Regions from separate parts of the Homo sapiens genome. Here region 2 is linked to region 1. Evidence: fine-mapped expression QTL. A gene starts in region 1. The other region holds a variant in brackets. All regions are shown on one strand. Distances are from middle to middle.

The links. PIP is the estimated chance that this variant, and not a neighbour inherited with it, causes the effect. A credible set is the group of variants that fine-mapping cannot tell apart.
Region 2: its variant is the best candidate, but not a certain one, in a credible set for the expression of ASTN1 in skin (TwinsUK, PIP 0.63).

What each region holds. Positions count from the first base shown.
Region 1 is chr1:177,162,219-177,167,607 of GRCh38, reverse strand. ASTN1 (astrotactin 1) reads left to right here and starts at 2,896. Exons shown (of 23, transcript NM_004319.3): 1 at 2,896-3,214. The coding sequence starts at 2,932.
Region 2 is chr1:176,497,718-176,503,106 of GRCh38, reverse strand. The region is part of intron 1 of PAPPA2 (pappalysin 2); the gene reads right to left. Among named protein-coding and RNA genes, the nearest start is that of PAPPA2, 37 kb to the right of the region's middle. The variant T/C (reference allele first, on the strand shown) is at 2,706.

The DNA.
Region 1 (5,389 bases):
TAAATCTCACAGACATAATGATGAGTGAAAATATTAAGACACAAAAAAGCATATACTCTAAGATTCTATATTTATAAAATTCAAGAGCAAGTAACATTACTCTTTGGTGATGAAAGTCAGAAACATTTTCTGTGACCAGCAGGGGTGAGCGGAGATGATTGGCCCCTTTTGTTGATGGGGAACTAAAGACAAGAATGGTCCAAGCTTATCTCCAAATAAGAATATTATGAAGTTAAGTCTTGAATCCAGTTCTATTATTTCACTATATCATTATGCCTCTACACAAAGGTGATGATTGAGATGCATAACATTTTCCCCCATCTCCTCTAAATGTAAAACATCATGCATTAGAGATGGCCTGGTTTCCATGTACTTCAACCTTTACCCACATCTCTAGGTATTTAATTCCCTAAGAAAGGGCCATGTGACATTATTTCCATTTTTACAGGAATCAAGTACTCTGGAATAATATATTCTCTTTTAAAAAATTCTACTGTTTCTTTTGTTTGGTTTTGTTTAGAGAGGTCTAGAAAGACTTGAGATACCAACTACCAACTATGCCCAACTCAATATACATTTTAAGAAGACTAGATATTGACTTATTGGAAAATCAACCCTAAATGGTTTACTTGGGCTTTCTAACATGACTCAAGAATCTTCAGAAAATTAGAAAGAAAGATTTCAAAGTGACAGTAGATTATATGCTACTCAAAAGCAGGAGTAGTATTTTTCTGGCTGTGCTTAGCCTAATGCTTATGATACAGTAGGTACACAAACATTTGCTGAATTAATTACTGTGGTCCATAAAGCCCAGTGATTATCCATGGGTGCACCCTAGTGTACCATAACCATATAGTGGAAAGAGCAGTGGGCAAAGAAATCTTGTTCATGGTCTTAGCTCCATAGAAGATAGATCACTCTTTAATGGGTCTCAATTTCCTTATCTGTTAAGTGAGAGATTGGATGAATACATGATCAGGTACTTACATGCCATTTCTCACATTCTAGTATCAAGGGTGTGTTCCTGACATCCACTATAATTATTCAATGGCAAATAACCTTGCATAAGTAAGTTTAATACTAGATTTTTGTTTATGCTAGGGATAACAGAATGAAAGAGATATCATGGGGTTTTTGTCTCACTCAGTATCTCTTAGGGGAGCAATGACGATCAGGATGAGTTTTCAAAAGTCGTTAGCTGGTACATCTTTTTTACAGTAGTTTACAGTAGTTTGCAATGCTGCATGGTAAGATAACTTGGGGTTAATTCCCAGATAAGTTACATATAAAAACTCAACTAATAAAGTGTCTTTGTTCTTCTTTTCTTTGCATATGTGGTAAATGATCTTTCACTACTTAAACATTACCTTAAATATGGCTTATTTTCTCTATTCAATTAGATAAACTTTGTAAAATATATGGCAAAAGCTTTTTTGTCTTTTAAAGAACATATTTTCACATATGCCAATAAACTGACACCAGGTAGAATGAAAATGTAATTGTTTCTTAAGTAGGGGTCCTCTTTTAGAACAGTAGTGCATTAAATTTCTAGAGTGAGAACTACAAATAACACAGTCTTCACAGCACCTAGTATTGAAGTTAGCATTGACCCAATAACAATGGAGGGACACACTTTTGAAATAAGTTATTGGTTATCATGTGAGAGAAAGTTCAGTTAAATGTCAGATTTCAGAATACACAATGTCACTTTTCTACCACTGTTTATTGCATATTGTCATCATTTTTAAAAGGCAACATTGTTGAGCACTACTGGGAACAGATCTTACATGGGTTTTGGTGGTGGTGGTGGTGGTGTTATTCTTCAGAATACTTACGCAGGGTGCTGAACATCTTCCCTGTTGTACTCTTGACTGGATTGGGATTGACTTAGCTCATACCCAAGGATATTCTTTTATTACTTTTCCATCTGTTAAGAATGCTTAGGAACTTTGGTTTTTCTCACAATTTCTTTCCAGCTTTGTCCTATTTACTAGATTGTCTAAAATTAAAGTTTCAAGATTTATTTGAGCTAACCCTACTTTTTTTCTATCAGCTATAATATTCCCCAAATCATCTTTTTATTGGTTACTACAGATAAAATTTGTGATAGAAATGAAATGAAGCAGAGAGAAGTTGCGAGTAAAAGTTTCGATCTCCTGCTTAACTGTGCACCTTACTCTGTTGTGCATATCTATCCATCCATCTAAACCAGTATAACAAATATTTTCTTTAAATATTTTGCAAAGTTAGTGCTAAGTAAAAATATGCACATGTGCATTCCCAGCTCCCGTTTATCCTATGTACAAATCCAACTAGTGGGGGACGGGGCGGGGTGGAAGCAAGATTCGGACAAGCTATAATACATCCACAAAACCACTGGGGGAATTTTCATCTCCCCTCACCGCGCAGCTTTGCAGAAGCGCCCTTTAAGGTGTATGTCTGTGTGTGCCTCTCTCAAGCCTTCTGGATGATGATGCGAGAGGGAAGATTTTACATTGCAAAGATCAATGTATTAAAAATGCCGTGCAGGTAGTTCATAGCCAAGAGCCTTGCTCGTGTTGGAGGATGCAACGGAGGAGAGAGGCAGGAGCACCGGCAGCCAGCTGGGGGCTGACCTGATTCCCTAGAATCCTCAGCTCCCTTCCTCTTTCCTTTCGACGTCCTTCCTTCCCTTTTTCTCCTCTCCCCCCTCCCCCGCTTTCCCTTCTCCAGATAAGCAGCTCCGGGAAACAAAGAATCCGGGGCTCTCCAGACATCAGAGCTTAAACCCAGGACTCTGCAAGCGGCATCTCATTCCGGGGTCCAGGGCTCTCCCGGCTCTCCATCCCCTCCCTAACCTCCCCCGCCTCCCGCGCTCGCTCCCTCGCTCCCTCCCCGCTCGCTTCCTCCCCCACCATCGCAGCGCTAGGAGGAAGGCGGCCGGGGCTCAAGATGGCTTTAGCCGGGCTCTGCGCCCTGCTCGCCTGCTGCTGGGGGCCGGCGGCGGTGCTGGCCACGGCCGCCGGCGACGTGGATCCATCCAAGGAGCTGGAGTGCAAGCTCAAAAGCATCACGGTGTCGGCACTGCCCTTCCTGCGCGAGAACGACCTGAGCATCATGCACAGCCCCTCGGCCTCGGAGCCCAAGCTCCTCTTCTCGGTGCGCAACGACTTCCCGGGAGAAATGGTCGTGGTGGACGACCTGGAGAACACGGAGCTGCCCTACTTCGTGCTGGGTGAGTCCCGGGGGAGGTCGAGGCGGCCGGAGGCGCTGGACCGGCGCCCCCACCCCCCACTCCAGCTCGCTCTACACACCCACTCGCCGACGACCTCCCCTCCCCCACTCCTACCTCCCGGATCCGCCCCACTCCCGGACCATTCTCCACACCCACTTGCATACTAGCGCCTCTGTGCACCTGACTTCTCCCCAAATCCGACCTGGATGCTGAGCCTCCTCTCAGCTGCCCTGCCTCAAAGAAACAGGTTGCATGAGTCTCTCTGAAACCTCTCCCAGCCTTGACCTCCCAGCTTTGATTCAGGAGCACATCCACACAGCACTTTTTGTCTGCTACCAGTTCAACTCCCATAATCCCTTCTCCCCACTCCCTAGCCACATGCTCAGCTCTTTGCTTCACTCACTCTGGATACCCACACCCACCTACAGCACTTCCTGGGGGCTTTAGAAACAGGTATCCTGTCATCACCTTGCCAGCTATGTGCAAGCCAGATTCTAGTCTTCATTCATGGAGAGCCCTTTATCTGTCACCAGGCTACTGACACCCTCCCTTCCAAACACTCAAGTTTCTTATCCCCCAGCTGTTCATTCTGGGAAGTCCTACCTCCATGCTTAGATGTCACAACCCCCTAATTCAACCACATCCACACATCCATGTCACGTCACAGTTGGTTAAAGATATTATACAACTGTAGTCTGTTAGTATTGGTCTCTTCTTTGTTCCCAGGGCCACCTTAGATAGGCGTAGGCATTCCTGCACACAGAATGACCTTTCTAGGCAAGGGGCTCTTCCTTCCTTTGTTTGTTTACATCTCTCTCTTTTTGGTACTCCCACTGTAATTTTCTTAGGTCACCTTCAGGTAGTGGAACTCCTGTCACTTCAGGTACTGGAACCCATACATTACTTCAAATCATCCCTGTTTTCCACTACTAAGCTGCAAAGGTTTTGTGGTCCTGCTCTAGTATCTTGCAAAGCACCACAAGTTCATGTTACTTTGCCAAATTCCCCTCACTTCTCCATGTGTAGATGGAGCTCTCACCTTGCTGTGCATGCCTACCATGCAATCCATTTCTTTAGTGATGTTGCCAATTATTCTTATTTTGCCCAGGAGAAATTCAAAGAAAACCACACTTCAGTCTCTAGATCCAAGTAGAGAAAAAAAGAAAATGTCTAGGAGGCTGTTCCATTTACTTGATACCCTACCAACTACAGTTCCATTTGCAGAAACATGGTTTCCTGATGGCCACATGTAGGCTAGAGCCACATGTGGAATTCTAACACATCCCTCTTGCTCTTCCTTCATAGGAGATGTCTTCACACTGAAAACACTAGGAAGTGAGTGAATAAACCCCTACTCCCCAACCCTTAGGGAAAAGCAATTTCAAAAATTGCCTGGCCCTTTGAAAAGTTGCTTTATAGTTCCCGGAGTGCAGCTCAGTTGAACCCATTAAACCCAACCTATGCTCTTGATAGGATTATTTATTTTTGCTTTCAAAAATACCAATAACATAATAAAAACTGGGGACTAGCTGGAAATGGGAGCATTGTGGATATGCCGCTCATCAAAATGTACAATTACTGGGTTATTTGGAGGATGGAAAGTTCACGTTGAAGTCATGCTGATATGCAAAGTACAATCTGTTCATCATAGTATATAAAAGTGAGTAGAGGGAATTATGTGTTTCTAAAGAGGCTGTTTTGCACTCTGCTTGTAGTGTTTACTGTGCATGAAGAGGTACAAGCATGGTGCTTAAAAAAAGGGAGGGCTAGCAGGTATTCAACATTTCATTTCTTTTTTGCAGAATCCCAAAACCAGGGCCTAATGCTGTGATGTGCCTACTAGGAACCAATGTGCACAGTGAAAGCCCAGATGTTATAAGAACGGGTTTTCTGCACCTCTGTGCAAAGCTGCCCACTGCAGTGTCCTGTTGGGGTTGCTATGGTAATCTGGTGCAACTTGGCATTTACACACAGGCACACAGACACACTCTCTCACTTCAGGGCCAGATGCACTATTTAAATGCATCGATTATCTCCCACTCTCCCAGTCAGTGGGGTATGCTCAGAACCAGAGAAGGGCTGGTACTTATTCTTTCTGACTCAGTATGCTCAAAGGAAGAAGGAATGAATTTCAGTTTGGGTGGGTGGTTAAACAGATCTGGGCAGAAAGGAAGA
Region 2 (5,389 bases), 660 kb after region 1:
GCCCTCTGACACCTTTATTTTGACCCAGTGTAAAAGTGAGACCTACCCCAAACTTCTAACCTGCAGAATTACAAGGTAATATATTTGTGTCATTTTAAACCACGAAATTTGCAGCAATTTATTTCAGCAGCAATAGTCAAGTAATACAATGTTTATTCCCCAGTGTTTAACTATACAGATTACTGGGTGCATCATACTCAGGACATGAACCGGTTTTATTAACTGGAAGAAAAACCTACGACATGGACTCTACAGGCACCTAATCATGTTGTACCCCTTTTCTTCACACAAATTAAATGTTGGAAGTCCTCTTGATAATCAAGACACACAAGTAACTTGGAAGATCCAATAATAGGTCATGTTTCAATTAGATGTGAAGTAAGTTGTTTGAAAGAAAAACAACTTAGTCTTGCCATGCACACCTTCCATAGCACTTACTTGCCTTTCATATGGAGAGATTGCACTGTTGTCCTAATATCTTGCCCCACCATCTGAAACATACCTAGTGATTGTTGTTTACTTGAAAGTTTGACCAGATGCAGTATCTAGTTGTTCAAGGGTGGAGCAAGACACAGGTAAGGATACTATTAAGAATAATACATACAAGCTTATTTGGTATAACCCAACAAAATAAATCTTTTTCTAAGAAAAGCTGATTAAAAATTGATCATATCAATTGCATTAGCCATTCCCAATGAAGAAAGTTTTAGATAGAATAAGTACATCAGAAATGCTGAGAATACAAGTAACTCAATCCCTATCTTCACAGCTATGTTATAGCTACTTGTACTACACCAAATGACAAACATAGACTTCACTAATATCATTTAAGTTTAAAGATATATGGGCAAAAACCTTGTTTGGGGCATCACCACCTCATTCCAATGCTTTCAAACAAATTGTTTGTTAGATTCTGAAAGGGTGGTGCAGACAGCTATCAAGTCTTGAATCAGATGTCTGGAGGATAGTAAATGACAAAACTTGCAAGATTTGTTCATTGCTTAGTAGGTCATTCCTACATTAAATGAGAAGTGTCAATCCTGCTTATTTCTTAAGAGCTATTCCAGGCTTAATAAAAAACTTACATCAGAAGTTATTCTTTGTGTTAGTCTATGTTCATTGTTTTTTCACTCATGTATTCCATAAGAGATTGTCTTTTCTTAGCAACTATGCCACTGAACCAGGGTGCATTAATTTTATAAATGATATCAGTGTCACTATTGCAAAAGGTTCAGAGGAAGGCTCAAACTGTGGCATCACCACGGTGACTCGCTGTGATGGAAGCACCCCAGGGGCAATGGACCACAGGAAAACCATTAGAAAGCTCTCCTCTGAGACATGTTGTTGTTTTTTACTCAGCCACTTAAGGAATGGTCAAGGCCACAAAGTCAAGGAAGCAATCACTCTTCTCTGACTATTACAAAGAATAAAATGGAGTCTCTGGGCTCTTCTACAACCATTTGCACTGACATAACCTTGAGAAAGGCTTCCCCATTTCTTACTGGAAAATTACTTTAGCAAGAGAGAAAAGGTCTTACAAGTGCCAAGGGGGCAGTAGTACATTACTAGCTTGTTTGCTCCCATTTTAAGTTTCTGTAGATTTTTTAAATGTTTCATCAGTTTGGACAGAAGTGAGGATGTAAATTTGGGGTTTGCAAAAAAGTGGCCTGAGGGACGGAAATGGGGACAAAGAGGGACAGGACAACTTCACCTAGATCAATTTTGTAGTAATAACAGATTTTATAGCAAAGACCTGTCATTTCTTGTTTCTTTGTAATTACCATTCAAAATAATAGAGACTAATTGTTAAACGTGATAACTAAAAAATAGGGAGATATTTATCAGAAGCCACTAACTTTTAAGAGATAACAAAGCTGTTAGAAAAAGCTTTTCCATTAAGTCTGGGAATTTGCTTTCATGCTGCTACTTCTGTGCTTTTAACTTCTGGAGTCAGTCTTACCAGTGGTTTTCTATTTCTTTCATATAATTGTATAATATATATCATATTATTCTATTATAAATATTAATATATTCTATTATATATACTTATTAATATATTGTATATGCCTATATATGTTATAAAATAAAACATATTTTATGGTTAACATTTGGAAACTAGTAAGGTTGACAGTACGCAGTTAATGCTAACCTAGCAACCTTCTGGGTACTAATATACTGTAAAGGAAAACCAATTTGCTAAGGCTATTAGCAAAGTAAAGCACATATTAGTCAATATTTTAAATAAGCTGCCTCCGGATGACTTCTCAATGACATGTCAGCCATGACGTCAACAGTAACCATGGTTTAGATTTATGTTATCACATACATAGGTTAGGGGAAATTGGTATTGAATCATTATCAAAAGTTAATGCCAGTAGGAACTGGTTGTATTTGACTTATTGCACGACTGCAGAATGTACCTCTAATCTTAGCTAGAAATTTTCTGAATTCATGTTACTGTTCAAAAAGATTTGAAATAAATAGGCCTAAATTACAAGTGTTATTGCAAACAGTAAAGAGTTCATAAATAGGATGTGAACTAAGTTAACTAGTTTTATATGTATACAAATATATATAAATAAATTATATATAAATGTATAAATAAATTATATATAAATGTATATATATAAATATGTACACATATTTAGAGGTTTAACTTTTCTTTTAAAATTCAATTACAGTGAAAAAAGCTTTTAGAAATAGCA[T/C]ATATTAGGAAATTGAAATGTTTTTTCTTCTGGTGCCTTTCCATATCTAAAGTCACTTTTTCCTTTTGCTTAGGAACAAAATAATATACTGTGTTTAATTTAGTTTGACCTATAAACTTATTGTTTTTCTTATTTTTGAAATAAAATACATGGAACTGTAAAAGTAAATAGGAAAATGTTCCAATTTCAGAGATGTGGGAAAAGGAAGAAAATATCTAGAAAGGTATCTTATTTTTACAGGGTAAACAAAACCTCACAACTTTTTATGTACTTACATATTTCTAAATGTGAAAATTTTCACAAATGTCACCTCTCCTTTGATTTGAGTACAATTATCCATGTAAACCCACACACTCATTTATCTTAAAATCCTTATTTCTAATTAAATTGCAAAAGGGTGTAAACATTCCAAACCAAGAGCAGGCTGTTCTCATTTATTATTGAAAGAACATGATGACCTCCTAATACATACATACACACAGAGGGACACATCACGACTCAGACCCAGGAAAATGTTGCAAGCCTTTGTTCAGTTACCACAAGCTAAGAGAGGGACAGTAAGCTACTCACAACCCCAAAAGGTTGTTATCCACCCAGTAAATTAAACCATGGGTTAGCCAACTTGTCCAGAAAGTATGATAGACTGTGATTAAGACCAACCCTTAGGCAAATTCTCCTTGCAATGGTTTTTTTCTGGCCTCAGAATCCTTTTCTGTGTATAGGAGAGGGAAGCATTATGAAGGAGAGCTGGTAGATCGAGCTGTTCACCATGGTCTCCCCTCCCCAGCTGGAAGCCAGATCTGGGCTAGAAGTCAAACTCAGGAGATCATAAATACACTCCACAGAAGTAGAGATCAGAGCACACAAAACAGTCCTGCCCTTTTCTTCACTAAGATCATTTAAATATATGTCTCCAGGCCCAAAGATAAGCTAAAAACCACTTGCCCAAAATGTGTGTGATAAACCACCTGGCAGAGTTTTATAGATCTTTGGAATAAGTTTGAGGCAGAATTCTGAATATGCAAAGATTAAGGCAATTATTATCTACAATGAGACTATGGCATGACTTGCCACATAGCCCAAAATTCTAGTCAGTTTAATTGAACCATTACTTATGGTTAATTTACTAGTCTTTGGATACAAGAATTTAAGAAGACATAGTTGAAGTCACATTATTAAATAATTGTTTCCCAAAATACATGTTCCTGAACTAATTGGAATAGACTAGAAATCATAGAAAATTCATGATCAACTCTATTAGGGGAAGAGTTTCTCATTCAGCCAGGTAACTATTTGTTCTTTTCCTGCAGTCATAGCACCTCTGCGTCACCCAATATGCTAGGTAGGATTTTCTCACTTAGTTGCCAGTTAGAGAAAAGCAAGGTAAATTAATATTAGAAAAAAAGTAAAAAGAAATAAGAATGAAGGGAGAGAAAAAAGAAGGAGGGAGAAAAACAAGGGAAAGTAATAGTAATACACTGGCTGAAATAACCAAAATGTGGAAAGGACAGCCTTAGGTGTGAGTGGCTCCAGAGGTTTCAACGATGCTACCTGGTATTTTTCCTTGTGCCACTTCTGACCAGCATTTCCAGAAAGCATGGAAGCCAGCCACCTGTAGCTTCAGATTTCTTCTTCTTTTTTTTTTTTTTTGGAGGTAAGAGTCTCGCTCTGTCGCCCAGGCTGGAGTGCAATGGTGCGATCTCGGCTCACTGCAACTTCCAAATCCTGGGTTCAGGTGATTCTCCTGCCTCAGCCTCTGGAGTAGCTGGGACTACAGGCGCCCGCCACCACACCTGGCTAATTTTTGTATTTTTAGGAGAGACTGGGTTTCATCATGTTGGTCAGGCTTGTCTTGAATGCCTGACCTCAAGCAATCCACCCACCTTGGCCACCCAAAGCGCTGGGATTACAGATGTGAGCCACCGTGCCCGGCCAGCTTCAGATTTCTATCCTCACCATCTTAGAAACCAAAATTATAAGCTCTGGTTAGAAAAATCACAGAAAAGAAAATCTGATTGTTTAGGTTTGTGATAGGTGTCTATGCTGGGATGAATCTCTGTGGCTAAGGAGAGAGAATTGCTAACAAGCAGTTAGCAATTCCCAGAGTGGGACCTGGAGAGGAGCAGGTCCCAGAGAAGAGGAGAGTGCTATGCCCCGAGGAAAAGGACACTGTGCAGACAAAACAGAAAATATCCACCCGATCTACTCAACATTTAAGGTTTATCGGACTCTGAAAAGAAAAAGAAAAAAAAGAAAAAACGGTAACTTTAGAGTTGAAAAGAATAATGGGAGTCTGTGATTCCAACTCTCCACCACTGTGTTCAATTCTGAGTACTATGTTTTAAAAGAGGCCTAGACAATTAAAGGGATGTGCAGAGCAGTGATGGCACTAGAAGGAACTGAAACTTATTACCTTACAAAAAGAGGACCAAAGACACAGTGGACTTCAATTATTTGAACAGTCTTTTCTGTAGGGAAAGATGCATATTTAGTCTGTGCTGCCCAATTCTAGGGCTCAGAAATGTAAATAATTGCCTATAGGATTCAGAAAGGTAACATAAGGGAGCTAACCAGATGTTGAAAAAATGATAGTACATGCATGATAATGAACGGCAAGTATTAGCCCTAGGATATGCAAATCTCTAGGCAGTGGAGGACTGTTGAGACCTGGAGAACTTGTTCTT